7 linked regions of the Homo sapiens genome follow. The protein of the gene in region 3 purifies or fractionates together with the protein of the main gene of each other region. This does not show direct contact. Each region holds a gene or a part of one and is shown on either strand. Other genes may lie near its edges.

Region 1 (3,500 bases), on a different chromosome or scaffold from region 3:
CCATCCCCTCTCTTCCCTTTCTGAACATGTCCTAGCACAGAGTGTCAGGACTCGACAACCTGGCACGGGAGGGCATTTGTATGGTAAAAGATTAGAAGAAAGTGGTTATATATAAGGGAGTTGATTTTTAAAAAAGTTATATATATATATATAACATTTTAGTTAAATATATGTAATTTTTAACTAAAAAAGTTAAATATATCTATCCAGATAGATAGATACACAGATAGAGAGAGAGAGAGAGAGAGAGTTATAGGTGTCAGGTATCTCACTGCAGAAGTAGAGAGTTACAGAGTTACTCTGGAAACTGAGAAAGAGAGAAAACAAGAATGACTCCTAGAGGGATGGATTGGAATTGAAAGTATCAGAGTGAACTCACAGTTTTCAGTACATAAAGTCAGACATAAAACTAAATATAAATTTCTCCCTTCCTCTCTCACACTACCTTCCAACACAAACACAGACAAACAAAGAAACACACACACAATTTTCCCCAGCTCTGTCCTAAGAGGGCCTGAGACAGCTATACTTCATTAGAATAAACACATGGACTGGGGTTTCTAAATACCATTCTCTCCTAAAAGCAACCAGGACTCCTTGGAGAAATGGCTGACTCCAAGTACAGGATAAGCCTGCAACATCTTTTTTTTTTTTTTTTTTGAGATGGAGTCTCACTCTATGGCCCAAGCTGGAGTGCAGTGGCACGATCTAAGGTCACTGCAACCTCTGCCTCCCAGGTTCAAGCAATTCTCATGCTTCAGCCTCTTGAGTAGCCGGGATTACAGGCACGCACCACCATGCCCAACTAATTTTTGTATTTTTAGTAGAGACAGGGTTTCTCCACATTGGCCAGGCTGATCTCGAACTCCTGACCTCAGGTGATCTGCCCGCCTCAGCCTCCCAAAGTGCTGGGATTACAGGTGTGAGTCACGACACCTGGCCAAGCCTGGAACATCTTATTGCCCCAGAAAATAGGAATATGCTCAAAGAATGATGGGAATAGATCAAAAGGACCCGGAAACCAGCTTGACATGACTCCTAGTGGCCAAATCTGTAATAATTTGAGCACCAAAATTAATAACAAGCATATGAGATTATAACCCATAAAATAAAATAGGAACCCATGAGTCCACACTGATAAAAATAAATGAATATAAAGTTGATATGAATTGGGATATTACAATATCTCATAGTATCTCTCCACAAATTACGTATTAATTGTAAAGTGGGGTGGGAAAGGTAATTTGACTGTGAAGAAGTCTGGCAGACATGATCAAAGTTAATCACCAGTGATGAAACAAATTGAAATCATATAACAGCTTGTGGGATACAATGAAAAGAAAACAGCAACACTTCATTTACATTCCTGCCAAAGTTGTATAAACTGAGTCAAAACATAAAGGGAAAACAGACAATCCCAAATTAAGGGATATTCTACAATGTTACTACTGCTTCATAATCTTTAAAAGTGCCAAGGTTATGAAAACAAAAACTTCCATATTGAAGGAGAACAAAGAGGCATGACAACTAAATGCAAGGAGTGATTATGAACTGGATCTTTCTGCTATAAGAAATATTACTGGCTGGGCACAGTGCCTCACGCCTGTAATCCCAGCACTTTGGGATGCCGAGACGGGTGGATCACAAGGTCAGGAGTTCAAGACCAGCCTGGCCAACATGGTGAAACCCTGTCTCTACTAAAAATACAAAAATTAGCCGGGCATGGTGGCAAGCACCTGTAATCCCAGCTACTCGGGAGGCTGAGGCAGAGAACTGTTTGAACCTAGGAGGCAGAGGTTGCAGTGAGCTGAGATCGCGCCACTGCTCTCCAGCCTGGGTGACAGAAAGAGACTCTGTCTCAAAAACGAAAAAAAAAAAAAAAAGGTAAGTAACAAAAGAAATATTATTGGGGGCTAGGAGCAGCGGCTCATGCCTGTTATCACACCACTTTGTGGGGCTGAGGCGGGGGGATCACTTGAGCCCAGGAGTTTGAGACCAGCCTGGGCAACATAGCAAGACCTCATCTCTACAAATAATTTTTAAAAATTAGCCAGGCATGGTGGCACACACCTGTAGTCCCAGCTGTTCAGGAGGCTGAGGCGGGAGAATCACTTGAGCCTAGGAGGTCAAGGCTGCAGTGAGCCGTGATCATACCACTATACTCCAGCCTGAGTGACAGAGCAAGACCCTGTCTCAAAGAAAAGAAAAGAAATGAATTAAGAAGAGAAGACAAGACAAGACAAGACAAGACAAGACAAGACAAGACAAGACAAGACAAGACAAGACAAATCAAACATTATTGGGACAACTATCAAAACTTGGGATCTAAATCATACTCAAATACCACTATCAATCTGCTAATTCTGATAGTTGAGGGTACAAAGAACTTCCTGAACCATTTATGTAAGTTTAAGATTACTTCAAAATAAAAAGCTTTTTAAAATTAAATCCATCCTCAAAGGACAAATATTTGCCACAATGGAAGAAATGGAAGCAAAGAAAAATGTGCTCTAGATGCTCAAAGCACTCTAAGTGACCTCCAAAAATGCTATGAGCAACAACAGCATTGACAGACTACATTTTTGGTCTTCTGAATCACTAGTTCGTAAATCTGTAAGTTTTGCCATACTTCTTTAATTAATGCCACTCACTCTACAGCTCACCTTTAAACATGTACACTTACAATTAGAATACATATGTCCATAGAGTGTACTTTTTAAAAATCTATTAAACATAAGAAAACCTCAAATGTAACTGCTTGACACTAATACTAAAATGCATTTCTATAGCAGGTTTCTATACTAACCAGAAATGGGATGTCATTGTTGTGAATGTTTTCTTAATCGAGATTATTGCTTTTCTAAATGGGCATAAATGTAAATAAAGGCCATTAACAAGAACATATACAAGTTCTGGCAGATTCAGGACAACTCAAAAATTTTCCATTAACTCCTGGGTTAAAGACATTGAAGCTGCATTTTATTACAACCATCTAATGTTTTCTGCTTGCATCTTGTTTTCTATTAAGTTAATCTATTATGAAAGTGATGCTGAGTTTGTCTAAAGGTGAAGTACTTGGAAATGGATCCTCATTAAGTGTTTATGAACTGTTCTGCCTTTATTATGAAAATCCAAAACGAAACCAGAGGAAAGACAAATGTGAGAAGCACGGTGAGATCCAAATAGAGTCATCTTAATCCTTAGCTGTCTGCTACAAAATTAGTTTCAAGTCCTTGTCAATACCATCATTGTTCAAAGAAAACAAAACCTATCACAAAGAAAGCCTTTAAAATTTTTAGAATATTATTTATTACAATAGCATCAGGGCCTTTGTAAAAGCAGCATCTAAACTATGTCCTCCAGTATCACATTATTAGTAATAATTACAAAATTCCCTTAATCAAGAAAAACAGATTTTGATTCACTGTTTATCTTCTTTCAAAATAAAAGGATATACTATTATATAACAGAAAGAAGGATCTGACCACTAAGAGAGACCA
Region 2 (3,500 bases), on a different chromosome or scaffold from region 3:
CCAAGCAATTCCCAGCCCTGCCCAACCCACTGCCCAGCCTGGGCCCCTCCTCTCCTGCCCGAGCAACTGCCTGGTCCCCTCTCTGGGCTCCTGGCCCCTTCAATCCTTCAAACCCCAGCCCACACAGGAACCGTCACACACACAGGAGCCAGGGGGATCTTTCTAAAATACAAATCGGATCAAGCTGCTTCCCTGCTCCAGACTCTTCCATGGCTCCCTAGTGCCCTTAGGAGACCATCCGAGCTCCTGAGGCTGGCACTCAAGGCCCTTCATGATCCCGCCTCTTCCCTTTCTACCCTCTGCTTCCCCAGGCTGCAGCCCCAAAGAACAGCCTGCAGTTTCTCCAGAGCACTATCATGGCAGCCATCTTTCGACCCATCTTTCTCTGTCCTTTGGCTTGGCTAACACCTTCCCATCCCTCCGTCTCAGCTTACGCATCTCCATCACGAACAGATATTCACTGAGCACGTATAGAGTGCCAGCCCTGCTCTAAGCATCTTATATGCAGAGACGCATTTAATCCTTGCAACAACCCTGCAAGAAAAGAATGAACATTAACCCCATTTTAGAGATGAGGAAATTGAGGTGCTAAGAGGCAGAGTTGCTTGCTCAGGGTCGCATGGGTAGTAAATGCTGGAGGCAACTCCCAGGCTGGGCCTAATCCAGCTTCCACATGACAACGTGATTCCATCTCCCATCTCCCATCATCTCTGCAGACAAACGAGGGCCGGGAGAGGTGGTCTCCGGGCCCTGGTCAGCACTAGCAGGAGGGCTGGGCAGCACGGCCCCTCCTCTGCTGTGTCTGCTGACCGCTCCTCCCGACACTCCCCCACCCTGTCACGTGTCCTGCTCTGTGGGAACTCAGCTCAACAACACTTTGATGGAAAAATTTATGAAGAATCAAATTATTGCTGCTGGGAGGGAATTAAAACCATTTTTCATTCCCGGCGTCCCCGGGCCATGTCTGCGGGCGCCACCTTGGGAGCGCTGTGCACATCCCATCCCTCTTTATGGCCCACCATCACGGGCACAGATTACAGCTGCAATTCTCTACTAATCGGTTCTGGAACAGAAATGGCCATAAATGGGAGGCACTCGCCTGCCTCCCTTCCTGGAGCTGCCGTCAGAACCGCCCACGGCGAGCTGGTGGGGCGAAGTGGGCAGGGCCACTTGGAGCTCTGCATGCTGCCTGGGCACTGGCCAGAGCACTCAGCAGGGGGCACCCCCAGCAACCCCTGCCACCCACCTCTATTCTACCCAGCAGGCTCCTACTCATCCTGCAATGCCCAACTCCAATGCCACCTCCTCTGGGAAGCCTTCTCTGATGCCCCAGTCTGGGGGAGGTAGCCTCCTCTATGCTCCCCTCAGCGTCCCCCACCTCAGTTTACTCCTGTAAAATGGAGATGTCAAGCCCTTCCTGAAGGCTGTTGTCAGGATTCGAGGATGCTGAGCATGTAACTCAGTACACGGGTATCACAGCAGAATGACAATGCATGTCCCTGTTGGTGCCCAACTCTACCACCTCTACCAGGGTTCCATGAGACAGGACCTGGCCCCATCTGATCCTCAAGGGGGCCTCCGTGAGTGTTTACAGAGTAGGTGAGTAAAGGCCTGGGGTGAGCTGAGGCTGAGGCCAGGCTCTGCTCTGGGCATGCTGGACCCCACCAGCCTGCAGGGCATGGCTCTGCAAGGGGAATGTGGGCTGGATTTTGGCTCTAATTTGGCCCTCTGGCTGAATCCCCTTGTTCAGGGCACAACCTACCCAACTGTCAGTGACAGCTTTAGGCAGAGGCCCTAGGAATCTGGCTGGCTGTCCAGCTCTCCCGAGGGGCTGAGGAAGGAGCCTGGGTTTGTAGAACCCGGTGCTCTGACATGGAGGGTGGTCCTCCCCCAACCCCTACTGCCCCTCTGTCCCCTCCCCACACTCCACCTGACCTAGTGGCCACACTAAGGTCTGCAGCCTGACCTCTGCGGCCTCTGAGTGGACAGACACTGGCCGTGTCGCTGCTAGCGTGGGAGCGCCACGGTCCCAGGGTCCCAGGCCAGGGTCAGCACACCTTGGGTGACTCCCGGAGAGGAAACCTTCTTAGGCTGGGGAAGGGGCAGCAGGGCGGGTGACCTGCATTTGCAGTCAAAGCCACAGTGCTGGCTGTGCTCAGAACAGCCGCGCTAATGCCTTGGCAGCAGGGGGTCGATTGCTACTTTCTCCAAACTCATCAACACAATCTATTATTAATACTTCTCCAAAGGCTCAGTGCCGCCATTACAGAGGCAGCGCCAGCCACTCAGGGTATCATCTGTTATCTAGATTGCAAAAACTCAGGAAATAAAACAAACTGCGCGCACTTTATAAACAGAATGCGCCATCCGTTTGGTCTCCAAGCATCTCTCCACCCAATAAAACATCGGGGGGGATGCATGAAATACTCACTCCCAATTATGGGGCTGCCTTTGTCTACTGTGCTGGGGTGAGAGCGACTAATGGCGTGTATGGGAGGGGTTGGGGATACCAGCGGGGTTCCCTCTTCTCTGTGAGCCCCCATTCCCCCTCTCTTCGTGCCTCCCACCACGGAGGACTATGGAGCCAGCCACTGAGAAGAAGGCCCAGCCACAGACAGGTGGCATTGGAATCACATGGACTTGAGTTCCATGCCTTGTCCCACCACTTGCTAGCTGGTGACCGGGCAAGTAATTTTTCTTCTCGAGCCTCAGCTCACTTATCTATACAATGGGCTGGACAACACTGCCTGCATCTCAGCATGAAGATGTAGCGAGTTGTCAGTGTAAAGCAGCAGGTGTGGCGGGCACAACCTCCATAACTTCCTTGCTGTGCAGCTTTAGGCAAGGCATTTGACCTCTCTGAACCTCAAATTCTTCATCTATAAAATGGGAATGATCAGGCCAGCGCGGTGGCTCACGCCTGTGATCCCAGCACTTTGGGAGGCTGAGGCGGGCGGATCACTTAAGGTTAGGAGTTCAAAACCAGCCTGGCCAACATGGTGAAACCCCGTCTCTACTAAAAATACAAAAAATTAGCCGGGTATGGTGGCACACACCTGTAATCCTAGCTACTCCGGAGGTTGAGGCAAGAGAATCACTTGAACCTGGGAGGTGGAGATTGTGGTGAGCCAAGACCGCACCACTGCACTCCAGCCTGGGCGACAGAGAGAGACTCCGTCTCAAAAAATATATAAAAAATAAAAAAAAAAAGGGAATGATCATCCCCGACCATGGGGTTGTTGGCAGGGGCTGGATGCATTTAAAGCCCTCGGCACCATGCTGGCATGAAGAAGGTACTCCAGGTACCCCACATTTCTTTTGTTCGGTGTGTGCCCAAAACGCCTTTGTTGCTCACCCTTGCTAGAGTCTCCATGATTCCTGGGGGCAGCCTCCCTGACGCTGACTGGGTTTACAGGGCCCCACTGTGCCTCCTTCTCACCACCACCCCGGGTTCCGGCCAGCCCTTCTAGCTTGTTTGGCCTGATCTGGACAGAGCACTC
Region 3 (3,500 bases):
TGCTTTTATGCCAATATCATGCTGTTTTGGTTACTACAGCTTTGTAGTTTTGAAATCTTTAAATTTTTGAAATTTTGAAATTTTCTAGTTTTGAAATTTTGAAATCTTGTAGTGTGATACCTCCAGCTTTGTTCTTTTTTGCTTGGGATTGCTTTGACCATTCAGGCTATTTTTAGTTCCATATGAATTTTAAGATTGTTTCCTCTAATTCTGTGAAGAATTACATTGATATTTTGATAGAGCCAGGTTTGAATCTGTAGATTTCTTTGGGTAGTATAATCATTTTAGCAATATTAATTCATCTGATGAGTAAGGAATGTCTTTCCATTTGTTTGTATCCTCTTCAGTTTATTTCCTCAGTGTTTTGTAGTTTTTCTTATTAAGGCTTGTCACCTCCTTGGTTAAATTTATTCCTAGGTATACTTCATTCTCTTATAGCTATTGTAAATGTGATTGCCTTCCTGATTTATTTTCAGCTAATTCATTGTGTGTAGAAATGCTACTGATTTTTGTATATTGATTTTGCATCCTGCAAATTTACTAAATTCATTTATCAGTTCTGAGAGTTTTATTGTTAGAGTCTTTAGGTTTTTGTTTTGTTTTGTTTTGTTTTGTTTTGTTTTTGAGATGGAATTTCACCATGTTGGCCAAGCTGGTCTTGATCTCCTGGCCTCAAGCAATCTGCCCACTTTGGCCTCCTAAAGTGCTGGAATTACAGGCATGAGCCACCACGCCTGGCCAAGTCTTTAGGTTTTTGTATGTTATTTGCAGAGACAATTTGACTTCCGCCTTTCCAGTTTGGATGGTTTTTATTTCTTTCTCTTGCCTAATTGCTCTGGCTAGGACTTTCAGTACTATGTAAAATAAGAGTCATAACAGTGGACATCCAGTTCCTAGAGGAAAAGATTTCAGCTTTTCTCCATTCAGTATGATGTTAGCCATGGGTTTGTCATATATGGCCTTTTTTGTGTTGAGGTACTTTCCTTCTATACCTAATTTATTGAGAGTTTCTATCATGAAACAATATTGAATTTTAACACATGCTTTTTATTCTGCAACTATTTAGGTGATCATACGGTTTATGTCCTTCATTCTGTTGACATATGTATAACATTTATTGATTTGCATATGTTGAATCATTCTTGCCTTTCTGGGATTAATCCCACTTTATCATGGTATGTTATCTTTTTGATGTATTGTTGGATTTGATTTGCTACTATTTTGTTGAATATTTTTGCATCTATGTTCATCAGGGATATTGGCCTCTAGTTTTCTTTTTTTATTGTCTCCTTTCTGATTTTGGTGTCATGGTTATGCTGGCCTTGTAGAATGAGTTAGGAAGAGTTGCCTCCACTTCAATTTTTTGGAATAGTTTGAGAAGAGTTGGCATAATTTTTTTTTCTTTAAAGGTTCAGTAAAGTTCAGCACTGAAGCCATCCAGCCCTGGAATTTTCTTTGTTGGGGGGCCTTTTATTATTCATTCAATCTCATTACTTGTTGTTTGTCTGCTGAAGTTTTCTATACCTTCTTGATTCAATCTCGGTAGATTATATGTGTCCAGGAACTTATCCATTTCTTCTAGACTTTCAAATTTGTTGGCATATTGTTCATAGTAGTGTCTAAGATCCTGTGTATTTCTGTGGTAACCATTGTGACATCTTCTTTTTTATTTATGATTTTATTAATTTTTATGTCTTCTGTCTCTTTCTTAGTTTAGCTAATGATTGTCAATTTTATTTATTTTTCCAAAAAGCGAACTTGTTCATTGATTTTTTTTTAATTTCATTTATTTCTGCTCTGATCTTTATGATTTCTTTCATTGTGCTGATTTTGGATTTGGTTTGTTCTTGCTTTCTAGTTTCTTGAAATGCACAGTTAAATGGTTTACTTGAAATTTGTCTAATTGTTTGATGTAGGCATTTATTTCTCTCAAGTTGTCTCTTAAAACTGTTTTTGCTGTGTCCCATAGGTTTTGGTATATTTTATTTCTATTTTTATTTATTTTGAGAAATTTTTAAATATCATTCTTAATTTCTTCCTTCACTATTGGTCATTTAGAATCATTTTGTTTCATTTCTGTGTATTTGTATAGTTTGCATGTTTCCCTTGGTATTGATTTTTAGTTTTATTCAATTGTAGTCAAATAAGATACTTGATACATTTTGGTTTTTAAAAATTTTTGGCACTTGTTTTGTGTTCTAACATATGGTCGATCCTTGGGAATGTTGCACATGCTGATGAAACCATGTGTATTCTGCAGCTGTCGGTTGAAATGTTCTGTAAATATCTTAGGTTCATTTGGTATATGGTGCAGTTTAAATCCAACGTTTATTTGTTAATCTTGTCTAGATGATTTGTTCAATGCTGAGAGTGGGGCGTTGAAGTCCTCAACTATTATTGTATTGGAGTCTATCTCTCCCTTTATATCTAATAATATTTGCTTTACATATCTGGGTGCTCTGGTGTTGTGTGCATATGTATTTACAGTTGTTATATTATAGTGCTGAACTGACCCCTTTATAATAATATAATGTCCTTCTTTGTCTCTTTACAGCTTTTGACTTGTAGTCCGTTTTGTCTGAGATAAGTATAGCTATTCCTGCTTCCTTTCATTTCCACTTGGGTAGAATATCTTTTTCCATCTCTTCCTTTTCAGTCTATGTGTGTCTTCTAGGTGAGATAAGTTTCTTGTAAGCAGTATATAGCTGTGTTGGTAGAAGGGCTGAGGCAGGGCTTGCTTGTCTGACATAATGTAAAAGAGTCTTGGAACATGTCCTGGGTCCAGGGTCTCAAACCCCTCGTGGCCTATGGAACACCAAGCTCTGTGCCTAAGGGTGGAAGGCTGCCCTGCCACACTGCAATCTAAGCCCAGGGCATAAAACCCCTCGTGGCTTGGAAAGAATCCAGGGCTCTGGGCATAAAACCCCTCATAGCCTCTGGAATGTGTCCAGACTTGCTGGCCCCTTGCTCCTTGCTCTCCCAGGATCATAAATTGATTGTATCTTGAGTGAAAAGAACTTGTTCTCCATTATTTCAAGTAGCAGAGCATATGCTAAACCGTCACAGCTATGCTTGATGCACCGCTACCTTTCTACCCCAAAGTCCTCACGTTCTCACTTGTCTATCCCCACTTCTGCACGTCCTCACCACCTGCTTCTTTGTTTGATTACCAATAAATAGTGTGGGCTCCCAGAGCTCGGGGCCTTCACAGCCTCCATACTAGCGTCGGCCCCCTGGACTCACTTTATGTACTATTAACTTGTCTTGTCTCATTCCTTTGACTCCGCTGGACTTCGTGGCCCCCACGGCCTAGTGTTGGATCTGATCACCCCAACAAGCTGAGTCTAGATTTTCTTTTCATTCATTCAGGCAGTCCATATATTTTAAATGGGACAATTTAATCCATTTACATACACATTATTATTAATAGGTTATTTTCATTTCATTGATTGTTTTCTGATTGTTTTATATATTCCTGGTTCCTTACTTCCCCTCTTATT
Region 4 (3,500 bases), on a different chromosome or scaffold from region 3:
AAAAAGTGCGGTGCATGTGTGTTTGTGTATATATGTATATATGTATATGTGTGTATACATATATATGTATATGTGTGTATACATATATATGTATATGTGTGTATACATATATATGTATATGTGTGTATACATATATATGTATATGTGTGTATACATATATATGTATATGTGTGTATACTATATATGTATATGTGTGTATACATATATATGTATATGTGTGTATACATATATATGTATATGTGTGTATACATATATATGTATATGTGTGTATACATATATATGTATATGTGTGTATACATATATATGTATATGTGTGTATACATATATATGTATATGTGTGTATACATATATATGTATATGTGTGTATACATATATATGTATATGTGTGTATACATATATATGTATATGTGTGTATACATATATATGTATATGTGTGTATACATATATATGTATATGTGTGTATACATATATATGTATATGTGTGTATACATATATATGTATATGTGTGTATACATATATATGTATATGTGTGTATACATATATATGTATATGTGTGTATACATATATATGTATATGTGTGTATACATATATATGTATATGTATATATACGATGGAATACTACTTAGCCATAAAAAGGAATGAATTACTGGCATTCGCAGAGACCTCGATGAGATTGGAGACAACAATTCTGGGTAAAGTAACTCAGGAATGGAAAACCAAACATCACCTGTTCTCACTCATAAGTGGGAGCTAACGGCTAGGCATGGTGGTTCACGCCTGTAATCTCAGCACTCTGGGAGGCCGAGGCGGGTGGATCACTTGAGGTCAGGAGTTCAAGACCAGCCTGGCCAACATGGTGAAACCCCATCTCTACTAAAAATACAAAAATTAGGCGGGCATGGTGGCATGTGCCTATAATCCCAGCCACTCGGGAGGCTGAGACAGGAGAATCACCTGAACCCGGGAGGCAGAGGTTGCAATGAGCTGAGATCGCGCCACTCCACTCCAGCCTGGGCAACAGAGCAAGACTCCATCTCAAAAAAAAAAAAAATAGTAAGTAGGACCTAAGCCATGAGGATGCAAAGTCATAAGAATGACACAATAGACTTCAGGGACTCAGAGGAAAAGGATGGGAAGCGGGTGAGGGATAAAAGACTGGGTTCAGTGTATACTGCTCGGGTGCACTGTTCAGTATACACTGTTCAGTGTATACTGCTCAGGTGCACCCAAATCTCACAAATCACCACTAAAGAACTTACTCATGTAACCAAACACCACCTGTTCCCCAGTAATCTATAGAAATAAAAAATTAAAAAGAAAAACAGAAAGAAAAACAGACAAGTGGTCTCCGAAGACTTGTTCTCCTCAATTCCATGAGGAATCCCATGGTTCCTCAAAAACACTTGGAGGCGATGGGGTACTTCCTCCTGCTCTTGTTACTTAAGAAACAAATAAATAAATAATCCAAAATTGTCAGGGATCAATCATTTTTGTCTTCATTTAAAATTAACCCAGAGTCCAGATTTACTCTATCAGACGAATATGTAAGAGAAAGGAAATATGATTCACATTCAATTTATTTTTCAAAGTGTTTCTGGACAAAGTAAGACATTTAATAACATGGAAAGTAACCGCTGAAAGGAACAAGAAAAGGAACTGCACCTACAGCAAAATCTCACCCACCAGCTCTTCCGCGGCCCCCGTCACAGGAAGGTCATCTCCACTCACAAACAAGAAGAGAAACCCAACTGGCGGGGAACACACAATCACTGCCGGAACAAGACTCCGGGGCTTCCCTCTGCATGGAAAACAGGACTGAGGGTTCTTACCCAATAAACAATCTCTTCAAAACATAAGCAAAAGGCAATACAGATTTATAAAAAACACAAGAAAGCAAGGCGGCCAGAAGCAGCAGCCAACATTCTGAGGAAAGAGGCAGGGCTCTATTTGGTTCCTAGGCCTGAGCAGGACATAGGACATAGGAAGAACCCTCCGAGCTGACTTCAGTCCCCTGGGTTTAAACACACTTTGTGGAGGTTACCCAGTGACCACCCCCAAGGCCGCTGACCAAGGTACTCCTGCCCACATCCAAGTGCAGGACTCTGCTGAGGGAGGTGCTGGGCCACCTGCCATTCCCTGTCAGACATCCCTCGGCACAGTCCCCAACTCTTCACAGCTGCTGTAACAAATTACCACAGCTTAAAACATGCATTCACTATCTCGAAGTTCTGAAGGTCAGAAATCCGGCATGGGTCTCATCACACTGAAGTCCAGGCGTCAGCCAGCTGTGCCCCTTCCGGGAGGCTCGAAGGGAGAACCCCTTTCCTGCTCACTCCGGTTGGCGGCAGAATTCAGCTCCTGGCGGATGCAGGAGCAAGGCCTTGCTCTCCTGTTAGCCATCTGCAGAAGGCCTTTCGCAGCTTCTAGAAGCCGCGCCACATTCCTGGTGGCTGCCTCCTCCATCTGCAAAGCCAGCCGCTGTGGGTGGAGTCCATCCCACACCATGTCTCTGACCACGTCCAAAAGCTCGTGAGGTTACACTGGGCCCACCAGGTAACAGGACAATTCCCCCATTTCAGGTCAGCTGATTAGCGACCTTAATTCCCCTCTGCCATGTAACAGAACATATTCACAGGGGTCAGGGATGAGGATGAGGACACCTTTAGGGGGCCAGTATTCTGCCTACCACACTCCCATCCCCTCAGGCCAGCACCCTGGAGATCACCTCGACCCCCAGCACCCCGCCCATCAGTGAATCCTGAGTGTGCCATGTGTACCCTGAACATGCCCGATCCTCTCCAACCCCACAGCATCTGGCCTCGGCCTCCTCAGAAGCCCACCAGTTTCCTCTCTCGCCCTCTCTTCAAGGATGACAAACAGTGTCACAGTATCACACCCCTCCCTGTTTAAAACCCTTCAACACTCTCTCATGGCTCTTAGGACCACAGCTCAGATCTTCACCATGGCCTTGGAAGCAGCTCCAGTGCCTGCTCACCACCCTCCATGCCCCTCCTCCCCAGTCAAGCGCTCCCCACTCCTATACACCCTCCCCTGACCTCAGCAGCCAGATCGGTTCCTGCTGTACAGCCAGGTCTCGGCGGAAGCGGGACCTGTGTAAGGAGGACATGAGCATTCCACCCAGTGAGGGCCTTGCTACTCTGCCAGGGTCCCGGGACTGCCACCTGCCCAGCACTGCAGTCTGTGCGCATGTGTTCACAGGGCAGGCGTCCAGCCGTGAAGAGCCACATGGCTTGCTCAGCACGCACCACAGCACCTGGCACAGGAGAGGAGCTCGTAAACGTTTTCCAAATGAATTCATTATCCCCAACAGTGCCTCTCCTTCGGCTGAGGACGGACTGTGGCCTATTCAGCCGACCGTCTGATTTGCTCACAGACATCTCGTGGCTCTGGCAATGTAAGCTGAAGGCTGTCAGAGCCACATCACTAAGAACCCTCTTGTGCTCCAGCTTTATCCCAGCACTCACATCCTTGCCATGCTC
Region 5 (2,313 bases), on a different chromosome or scaffold from region 3:
CTGCAGTTTCTGCCGGCAGCGAGATGGACGGTGTGCGACTGGGGTCCTTGTGTATTTAGCCAAATATCATGGCTTTGGGAATGTGCATGCCTACTTGAAAAGGTAGTGGGTGTTTTTTTTTCCCTTCCACATCTGAATTTTATATTCATTTATGTCTTAATGAGAAGATGATAGATGTCAGAAGAGTGGTTATCTCTGGCGGGGTGGAGACTGACTGGAACGGGGCACACTGGAAGGGATGGGAACATTTTCTGTCTTCACTTAGGTGGTGGTAACCCGGGTGGGTGGGTGTGTATGAAAAAGTCAGGTAATATACTTGAAGATGCGCACACTTGACCATAGTGATGTTATAACTCAATAAAAATGGTTTTAAAAATGAATTAGGCTTTCAAAAGAGAATTCTTTGGTTGAAAACTATGTCCTGACACATTTCCTTTTGTTTTTCACAGCCTGAAACAGGAATTTGAAATGCAAGCATAATATCTGGAAAATTTGCTGCCTGCCTTCTACTTCTCAAATCTTTCTTGTAAAAGTTTCCAATTTTTTCACTGAAACCTGAGTTAAAAATCTTGATGATCAGCCTGTTTCATAAGAAACTCCAATCAAGTTAATCTTAGCAGACATGTGTTTCTGGAGCATCACAGAAGGTATATTGCTAGTTACACTTTGCCCTCCTGCAGTTTCTTCTCTGCTCCCAACCCCCATCTCACAGCATCCCCCTCTATTTCCAATGCTCCTCTCCAACCGCTTAGTTTCTGAATTTCTTTTAAATTACAGTTTTATGAAAGCATATTTTATTTACTTGGTGTTGAAATAGCCCTCATAAAACCTAAGCACTTGGAAACACAATAATAGTATTAACTAACTAGATCTATTGAATTTCAGAGAAGAGCCTTCTAACTTGTTTACACAAAAACGAGTATGATTTAGCATTCATACTAGTTGAAATTTTTAATAGAATCAAGGCACAAAAGTCTTAAAACCATGTGGAAAAATTAGGTAATTATTGCAGATTGATGTCTCTCAATCCCATGTATTGCGCTTATGTTACAAGTTGTTGTCACAGTTGAGACTTAATTTCTCCTAATTTCTTCTGCCCGAAGGGTAAGTGGTGCGTCCAGCTTACACAATCATAATTCAAAGGTTGGTGGGCAATGTAATACTTAATTAAAATAATGATGGAAGAGCTATCTGGAGATTATGAGTAAGCTGATTTGAATTTTCAGTATAAAACTTTAGTATAATTGTAGTTTGCAAAGTTTATTTCAGTTCACATGTAAGGTATTGCAAATAAATTCTTGGACAATTTTGTATGGAAACTTGATATTAAAAACTAGTCTGTGGTTCTTTGCAGTTTCTTGTAAATTTATAAACCAGGCACAAGGTTCAAGTTTAGATTTTAAGCACTTTTATAACAATGATAAGTGCCTTTTTGGAGATGTAACTTTTAGCAGTTTGTTAACCTGACATCTCTGCCAGTCTAGTTTCTGGGCAGGTTTCCTGTGTCAGTATTCCCCCTCCTCTTTGCATTAATCAAGGTATTTGGTAGAGGTGGAATCTAAGTGTTTGTATGTCCAATTTACTTGCATATGTAAACCATTGCTGTGCCATTCAATGTTTGATGCATAATTGGACCTTGAATCGATAAGTGTAAATACAGCTTTTGATCTGTAATGCTTTTATACAAAAGTTTATTTTAATAATAAAATGTTTGTTCTAACTTGTCTGCTTTTTTAAAAATAATCTTACTGTACTTAATTCTAATTTTTTCCTCATATTTAAATAAAAGGCCATTTCCACCTTTTCTAAAAAAGTCTCCCTTTTGACTGAAGTTTCTGAAGTTCTAAGGTCAGCTTGTTTGAAAGGACCTCACTAGGTGACAGGACTAATACCTGTGATCAGAAAACGGGCGGAGACAACCACAGTGCCTGATAGAAAACAATATGTGCCCATGAAGTTTTGTAGTGTTTTCTTTTCCTTTATGATGTGCTTTGCAATACCTGGCTTACTTTTATCAACCATTCAAACATATATTAAATGCATGCTGTGCCTTGAGGCTTGTTCCAGGACTGTGAGAATCAACAAAAAAGGCATGGTCTAAAAGCTCTCATAGCCCAATTCTTTTTTTATTTTTTGTAGAGACAGGTCTTGCTATGTTGCTCAGGCTGGTTTCAAACTCCTGGGCTCAAGGGATCCTCCTGCCTTGGCCTCCCAAAGTCACAGGCAAGAGCCACCACCACACCGGCTGTCCAATTCTTTAGACCAGGGATTGGCAAACTACAGCCTGTGGGCTACATGCTGCTGCAGAGTTTA
Region 6 (3,500 bases), on a different chromosome or scaffold from region 3:
TTTTGGACTGGAATATCAATCAAACTTTACCTCACAGTATTTATGCATAGATAAATACTCAAAATACCCACACACACACACACACACACACGCGCGCACGCGCACACAGTCCTTACTTGCAACCTGGTGCATTTCCTCCATACATGCTCTGATGACTGATCGGTAGTTTTTACTCACTCGAACCAATCTACAAAAAATGAAATAACACACAAGATGAGCCTGGAACATCTTGTAGTGCCACAAAGGAAGGAAACACTCAAATAAATGCAGAAATTTGCTGAAAGAAAGAGGAGAGCCGTTGTGAAGGAGCTCCTAACCTTCTGAAGCTGGAACAACTTGGACAACAAAATAAAACGCCACAAAACAACCCATGGGCTAAAGTTAATATCCACAAACCCATACTGCCATTAATTGTTGCAGATGAAATCTACTGGTCAGACCTTGTCTCAAAAAAATAAAAAAGATACATAAATGTATTTACTGGCCAGGCCCGGTGGCTCAGGCGTGTAATCCCAGCACTTTGGGAGGTGAAAGTGGGCAGATCACCTGAGGTCAGGTGTTTGAGACCAGCCTGGCCAACCTGGTGAAACCCTGTCTCTACTAAAAATACAAAAATCCCAGCTACTCAGGAGGCTGAGGCAGGAGAATCTCTTGAACCCGGCAGGCGGAGGTTGCAGTGAGCCAAGATCATGCCATTGCACTCCAGCCTGGGCGACAGAGTGAGACTCCATCTGAAAAAAAAAAAAAAAGAATAAGACAGGGTCCCCTGCCAGCAAGGAATTACAGGACTTTTGACATGTTTTTTTCCTAGAAGTGACAATAGATTTCTCAAACTCACCAATATTCTCCACTAGAGTCCCTTAAATCCAATAATCAGGCCAGGTGCAGTGGCTCACTCCTATAATCCCAGCACTTTGGGACGCTGAGGTGGGCAGATCACTTGAGGTCAGGAGTTCAAGACCAGCCCAGCCAAAATGATGAAACCCCATCTCTACTAAAAATGCAAAAATTAGCCAGGCGTGGTGGCACGCACCTGTAATCCCAGCTACTCAGGAGGCTGAGGCAGGAGAATGGCTTCAACCCAGGAGGCAGAGGCTGCAGTGGGCCAAGATTGCGCCACTGCACTCCAGCCTGGGTGACAGAGTGAAACTCTGTCTCAAAAAAAAAAAAAAAAACAGGGCCAGGCACAGTGGCTCACGTCTGTAATCCCAGCACTTTGGGAGGCCGAAGCAGGTGGATCACGAGGTCACGAGATCGAGACCATCCTGGCTAACACGGTGAAACCCCGTCTCTACTAAAAATACAAAAAATTAGCCGGATGTGGTGGCAGGCGCCTGTAGTCCCAGCTACTCGGGAGGCTGAGGCAGGAGAATGGCGTGAATCCAGGAGGCAGAGCTTACAGTGAGCGGAGAACGCGTCACTGCACTCCAGCCTGGGTGACAGAGCGAAACTCTGCCTCGAAAAAAAACAGAAAAACAACCAATAATCACTCTTGCACACACTCACACAGAAGCTGACCTGAGTCTTGTCCAGAATGATTCATTTGTGAAAAGCTTATCAAAGAAGTAACATACCAACACTGCCCATTCCCTAGCCATCCATGTGAAGGGACGCTGACAAAAATCTAACACAGGAGTTCTTAAACTTCAGTGTGCTGGAGATTTTAAGATCCAACCACGGAGATTTTGATTTTGATGATCTGAGGTGGGTCCCAAAAGTCTACAATTAACAAGTACCACTCTGATAATGATGAAGTTATGAACTACAATTCAAGAAAATCCTAATCTATAAATAGTACGAGAGTTTTCTGGTCTGTTGTCAAATAACGTCTGAACCATAATTTTTTAGAGACAAAACTGTTAGGTTTATATTAATTTTCAAATCTCCCAACAATGTGACCTCATTCAACGACTCTCACATGCTTGTGTGGCCTAAATTTTCTTCTTTAGAGGCTAAGTAAAATATGAATATAAATAAAGCTTGTCAAGCCAGCCCATCAATAGCATTTGCATATTCCCGCTAAGTCTTCCCATCACTGCTAATGTACACTGTCCAGTACTCATGCCTCAACTAGAACCAGGAGTCTCTTATTTCTTTACGCAACCCATAAAACACACAAAAAGACAACAATGTACTTCATTTGGCTTTCCACAGTGTAGTGTGGGCTTCAACACCAAACAGCAACCAACTTACTGAGATTTTCTGGATTTTCCAGTCAACTCTTCGTCAATTCTCTGGAGGCCCAGAAAGATTCCATGGGATTCATTGAAGAGTTTTCTCAAGATTTGAGAGTAAACATCTACATCCTTACGGATGATATAGATAAAGGGGCAACTTGGCACCATCTCTGATTTTTCTGAAACCAAACAGAAAAAAAAAATTTAACATCTATTATGATCATCTCCAAAAGTGAATCTACTCTAAAAAAATTTTCTGTGGCCGGGCATGGTGGCTCTTGCCTATAATCCCAGCACTTTGGGAGGCCAAGGCAGGCAGATCACGAGGTCAGGAATTCGAGACCAGGCTGGCCAACATAGCAAAACCCTGTCTCTACTAAAAATACAAAAATTAGCTGGGCGTGGTGGCACATGCCTTCATTCCCAGCTACTCAGGAGACTGAGGCAGGAGAATTGCTTCAAACCGGGAGGCGGAGGTGGCAGTGAGCCGAGATCACACCACTGCATTCCAGCCTGGACAGAGCGAGACTCCGTCTCAAAAAAAAAAAAAAAAAAAGAAAGCAAATCAAATGTCAAGATTCCAGTTTTATCCTTCTACTGGAAGGAGACTGTATCACTGTATCAGGAAAAGAAAAAGATTCACATCCTATCCAATAGCTGATGGAACTCAGGAAAATCAAGCCAAGGACAAGCTATGTCACTCTCCAGCTCCATCTGTGCCTTGGATGCTACGGCTCAGCTCAGCCTACAGAACTATTATTCAGCTGAATCCATGCTGTGGACACAAAAGTGACGGCCAAGCATCTGCAAGGTTCACAATAAGGGAGCTACTGATAGGAATTTGGTCACTTTGGACAAAGAAAAAGGGATAAAAAGCTTGACATTTTAAATATGAAGAAAATTTTTCATGAAAACTATTAATTTTTTTCCGGGATTCAACATCTTCAAGATCTCAAAAATCAATGAAAATCTAAAATAGCTAACATTTCAAAAATAAAAATGCCAAAATGCAACAGGATCGCTTGAGGCCAGGAGTGCGAGACCAGCCTAGGCAACAAAATGAGACTCCCATCTCTACAAAGAAAAAAAAATTAGCTGGGCGTGGTGGCATGGTGACCTGTAGTCTCAGCTACTAGGAAGACTGAGGCAGAGGATCACTTGAGCCCAAGAGGTAGAGGCTGCAGTGAGCCATGATCACACTGTACTCCAGCCCAGGTGACACAACAAAACCCTGTTGTATCTTGAAAACAAAATAGAGAAAATTAAAATAGTACAAAATAAATTCAACTGTTTCAGTCCACAACTAGTAAAATCTGAGGTAAT
Region 7 (3,500 bases), on a different chromosome or scaffold from region 3:
TCCCGCTAATTGCAATAAATAGAATCAAAGCACTCGTGAGATTCTTCTCAAATATACACTCTCCATAAGAAAAAGTACCACTGTTTTATATGAGGTCAAACCTGAGACTATTTATTGGATTAAAGGGCTTGTATATGAAACTTTGCAGTTAAATACTAAAGATTTTTTTTGTTGTTGTTAAAAAAAAAAAAAGCCCTGCTTCTGCAGGAATGGTCACTTTTAAAATTCTGTCTTTGGAAGTCCATGGATCGTGTCACTCCTTTGGTGAGGATGACCCTTGCTTGGGAGGTACTCTTGCCCTGGTAAGAGGCCGTGTAACTGGCTTTTAGTGTCATTTCATCTTAGCCAAAGACATAAGAATTTCTCCGATGTCCTATACCATCCAGCTCTGTGCACCTGTGCTTTGAATTGTACATCCTTATCTATAGAAACTGGAGGTGAAAACTTTAACATAATAAAAACATTACTTTGCCTAAGCCATCAGTTAGGCATTTATCTCTGTAGGGAATCTGCTGTGCTTGGATGTACAGGGCAGATAGCTGGTAAAAAATTCAGAATCCTGAGTCTTTCATATTACAGATCTCAAGCTTTTTATCACCTTGGGACATGATTAACAACCATTATTGCTATTATTATTATTGGTGGCTCTAATTCCATGTTATTTACAGAAAAATCTTACAAAACTATGCCTATTTTTTAAATGATGATTTAAATAAATAGCAAAAAAACCTTGCAAGAATATTATTTTGGTACTTTGTACTTTTAAACCATAAACTGAACAAAAGATACTTTTTTGTAGAAGCACAAATGTGAAGTGTCACTCGTTCTGAGACTTCCTCCTCTGTGAAATTCCACAATCTCTTTCTATTTATAGACTTTTCCACAGCAAACATTAGCTGAAAGAGAGAAAAATACACACTAATTGAATGTAAAATGAAAAAAAAAGATGAGTGTTGAAATAGGCAATTATAATGTCCCCAACTCTCATTTAGCTTTAAAATTCCATGATTCTTTATTTATTGGAGAAGGGGTCTCACTATGTTGCTCAAGCTGGCCTTGAACACCTGGGCTCAAGTGATTCTCTCACCTCAGCTTCCCAAGTAACTGGGACTACAGGTGTGTGCCACCATTAATTTTTCTTTTCTTCAAATTAAAGACTGGAGCTAATTACTAACATTTTTGAATTCCTTTTAGGAAATTACAGAAAAATTGGGTTTAAATAAAAAAATTTAATTCACTATCATTAGAGATTAACTGGACACAAAAAATTAATTTGGGGCAACTAGAATTTATATAAACTATAGAACAGAGACTTTAATTAGAATGAGAAATGATAAGTGATTTTAACTAAAGAAATCAAGCATGTCACCCATTTAGCATTTCTTATTTAAACGTCACACAAGACTTAAGGCAATATATAACAACATATAAAATATAGTAATAACAAATTGAAAGTTAAAGTAGAATAGTGAGATAAATTTGTGTCAGAAATAAGAATTATAAAAATGCATACTTGATGTAAGGGGTGGTAATACATTTCGGTCTAAGCTTTCTAACAATAATGTGCAGAGAGAAATCTAATCTGTAACCTAATTCACATGGTCTGTAAGCTAAAAACAATCATCAGAGGAGGCACAACCTTCTTCATAATATAAAAAGAAATTCTTCCGGAAACACAATATTAATGTAATATGATGAATAAAGTCCTTAACAATAATGGGTGACACTGACAAGTTTTATAAGGCTGTTTCTTGTAGTGTTTGTCAGTGTAGCCAGTGGAAACAATTAGATAATTGAAACTCAGTAATGTCAGAGATAAAGCATTTCTAAAGTTTTATATACTTTTTAGGAACAAAAGATACAAAAGCAAGGAAAGTGGGCCTGGCTGTATCTCTCTAGCACTGGGCCCACATTCAACCCCCTCAATTCAGCACCAGCCAAAAAAGGTTGCACAATGAATGCTATTAATATTAAATACGCATAGATTTCGGTTAAATTTCAAAATGCCAAAGAGAATGAACAATTGTAAACAAGGTAAATTTATTTAAGATGGAAAAGTTGGCAGAGGGTTAAACAATTTAGCAGGGAGGAGAATATCTCCATTTTCTTCCCTTACTCCCTTAGGTGCAAATATCAAAGGCTTGAGGCTGGGACATCTGACAGGACAGGTTACAAGACTGAAAAAATCTGTAACATCTGAAGTTCTCAGCTGTATATTTTTTACCTAAAAAATGTTTTTCTGGGATACTGTTGGGGTTGGGTTTTATATGTCTCAAGATTTTAAGGTTCCCCCTCTTTTGGGGTATGAAATACCCTTCAAAAAGTTCATGTGGATCCTGAATGCTAAAAGAGCTGGCTACACAGAATCTACCTTAGGTTTGGGTTTAAGGGAAAACAGCATGTGGACCTTCATATTTACTTTTACACTATGTTACCCAATTCTCTGGTGCAGCAATTAAGCAAAAAACACAGGAGATTTCTGATAGATACTGTGTCCAGGAATAATCTGATTGTTTATGTTTTACTCTCAGGATCTCCGGAGAATTGAGAAGAAGGTAAAGAATTTCAGCACCTATTAATTTCATGTTACAGTAATCACTAGGTACTAAATGGAAGGTGTGACAGAATACTGCTATTGCATAAGAAAAACTGTTTAAAGCATTATAATTTGTTTCCTAATAGTCAGAAATTACCTCTAAAATAAAGATTATTTTAAAATATGTAGTTTTTCTGTCAAAAAGAATTACTTCCACAAAGATGCCTTTTTTACAACAAATTATTAGATCCAAGTGACTTTGAGTTCTTAATATTATAATTAATCATTTGAATTTTTCAATATTTTACAATGAATTATTTGTTTGCATAATTTACATGGAATTACTGTCATTAGTCATGGTTATTATTGAGAAGTAAATAATTTAACTTTTTAACTTGAGGAAAGAATAGCTTTTTCAAATTTGTATGAAATGCCATATGGGCTGATGATAGCCCTGTTTTGGGTAGTGTACTAAATAAAGAATAAAATTACCCATGGAAAAAATAATAAATAAAATGTGTAGTTTTTAAAAATATAAACATTTTTTACACTCAAGATATCCAAGCAATTGAGTGACAAAAGCTTTTTCAATGTAACCCCAACAAAAAGAATTATGGAAAACAAATGTAAATATGCCTAGAATCATTACACATACTCATAATCAGTAAAAATAACATATAACTGATTTCATTAAGAATTTTCGATATATCAAACTTACTCTACGCAGGGCATTTTGAAAATCATTTGCCAGTTCTAAAGTAGTAATAATAAATACTCCAAGAACTAAAAGTCCCCCTGGTAGCATTCTGGATACCTAAAAATAGAAATATATTATTAGCTAACAAATTGGCATTATATGCAATCCTTTCTGTTTGAGAAACTGTCTGCTTAGCATGTCCTTAGCTTTTCACCTTAAAACTACTTTATAAATAAAACTATCTGATAACAACATCCTTTAGCTACA

What was found.
Region 1: the proteins of CD33 (region 3) and UBR3 purify together in Homo sapiens (co-immunoprecipitation; one large-scale study listed by IntAct). This does not show direct contact.
Region 2: the proteins of CD33 (region 3) and LMX1B purify together in Homo sapiens (co-immunoprecipitation; one large-scale study listed by IntAct). This does not show direct contact.
Region 4: the proteins of CD33 (region 3) and TBC1D22A purify together in Homo sapiens (co-immunoprecipitation; one large-scale study listed by IntAct). This does not show direct contact.
Region 5: the proteins of CD33 (region 3) and CDCA7 purify together in Homo sapiens (co-immunoprecipitation; one large-scale study listed by IntAct). This does not show direct contact.
Region 6: the proteins of CD33 (region 3) and NUP85 purify together in Homo sapiens (co-immunoprecipitation; one large-scale study listed by IntAct). This does not show direct contact.
Region 7: the proteins of CD33 (region 3) and ODR4 purify together in Homo sapiens (co-immunoprecipitation; one large-scale study listed by IntAct). This does not show direct contact.

Annotation. Positions count from the first base shown.
Region 1 is NC_000002.12:169,952,954-169,956,453, reverse strand, and holds part of UBR3 (E3 ubiquitin-protein ligase UBR3), read right to left. Parts: intron 1-3,500. UniProt on the Homo sapiens protein: E3 ubiquitin-protein ligase which is a component of the N-end rule pathway. Does not bind to proteins bearing specific N-terminal residues that are destabilizing according to the N-end rule, leading to their ubiquitination and subsequent degradation.
Region 2 is NC_000009.12:126,686,928-126,690,427, reverse strand, and holds part of LMX1B (LIM homeobox transcription factor 1-beta), read right to left. Parts: intron 1-3,500. UniProt on the Homo sapiens protein: Transcription factor involved in the regulation of podocyte-expressed genes. Essential for the specification of dorsal limb fate at both the zeugopodal and autopodal levels.
Region 3 is NC_000019.10:51,228,080-51,231,579, forward strand, and holds part of CD33 (myeloid cell surface antigen CD33 isoform 1 precursor), read left to right. Parts: intron 1-3,500. UniProt on the Homo sapiens protein: Sialic-acid-binding immunoglobulin-like lectin (Siglec) that plays a role in mediating cell-cell interactions and in maintaining immune cells in a resting state.
Region 4 is NC_000022.11:46,769,150-46,772,649, reverse strand, and holds part of TBC1D22A (TBC1 domain family member 22A), read right to left. Parts: intron 1-3,500. UniProt on the Homo sapiens protein: May act as a GTPase-activating protein for Rab family protein(s).
Region 5 is NC_000002.12:173,367,185-173,369,497, forward strand, and holds the end of CDCA7 (cell division cycle-associated protein 7), read left to right. Parts: coding exon 1-102; intron 103-449; coding exon 450-480; 3' UTR 481-1,813; downstream 1,814-2,313. UniProt on the Homo sapiens protein: Participates in MYC-mediated cell transformation and apoptosis; induces anchorage-independent growth and clonogenicity in lymphoblastoid cells. Insufficient to induce tumorigenicity when overexpressed but contributes to MYC-mediated tumorigenesis.
Region 6 is NC_000017.11:75,208,679-75,212,178, reverse strand, and holds part of NUP85 (nuclear pore complex protein Nup85), read right to left. Parts: intron 2,357-3,500; coding exon 2,194-2,356; intron 188-2,193; coding exon 117-187; intron 1-116. UniProt on the Homo sapiens protein: Essential component of the nuclear pore complex (NPC) that seems to be required for NPC assembly and maintenance. As part of the NPC Nup107-160 subcomplex plays a role in RNA export and in tethering NUP96/Nup98 and NUP153 to the nucleus.
Region 7 is NC_000001.11:186,385,838-186,389,337, reverse strand, and holds part of ODR4 (protein odr-4 homolog), read right to left. Parts: intron 3,351-3,500; coding exon 3,255-3,350; intron 897-3,254; coding exon 790-896; intron 1-789. UniProt on the Homo sapiens protein: May play a role in the trafficking of a subset of G-protein coupled receptors.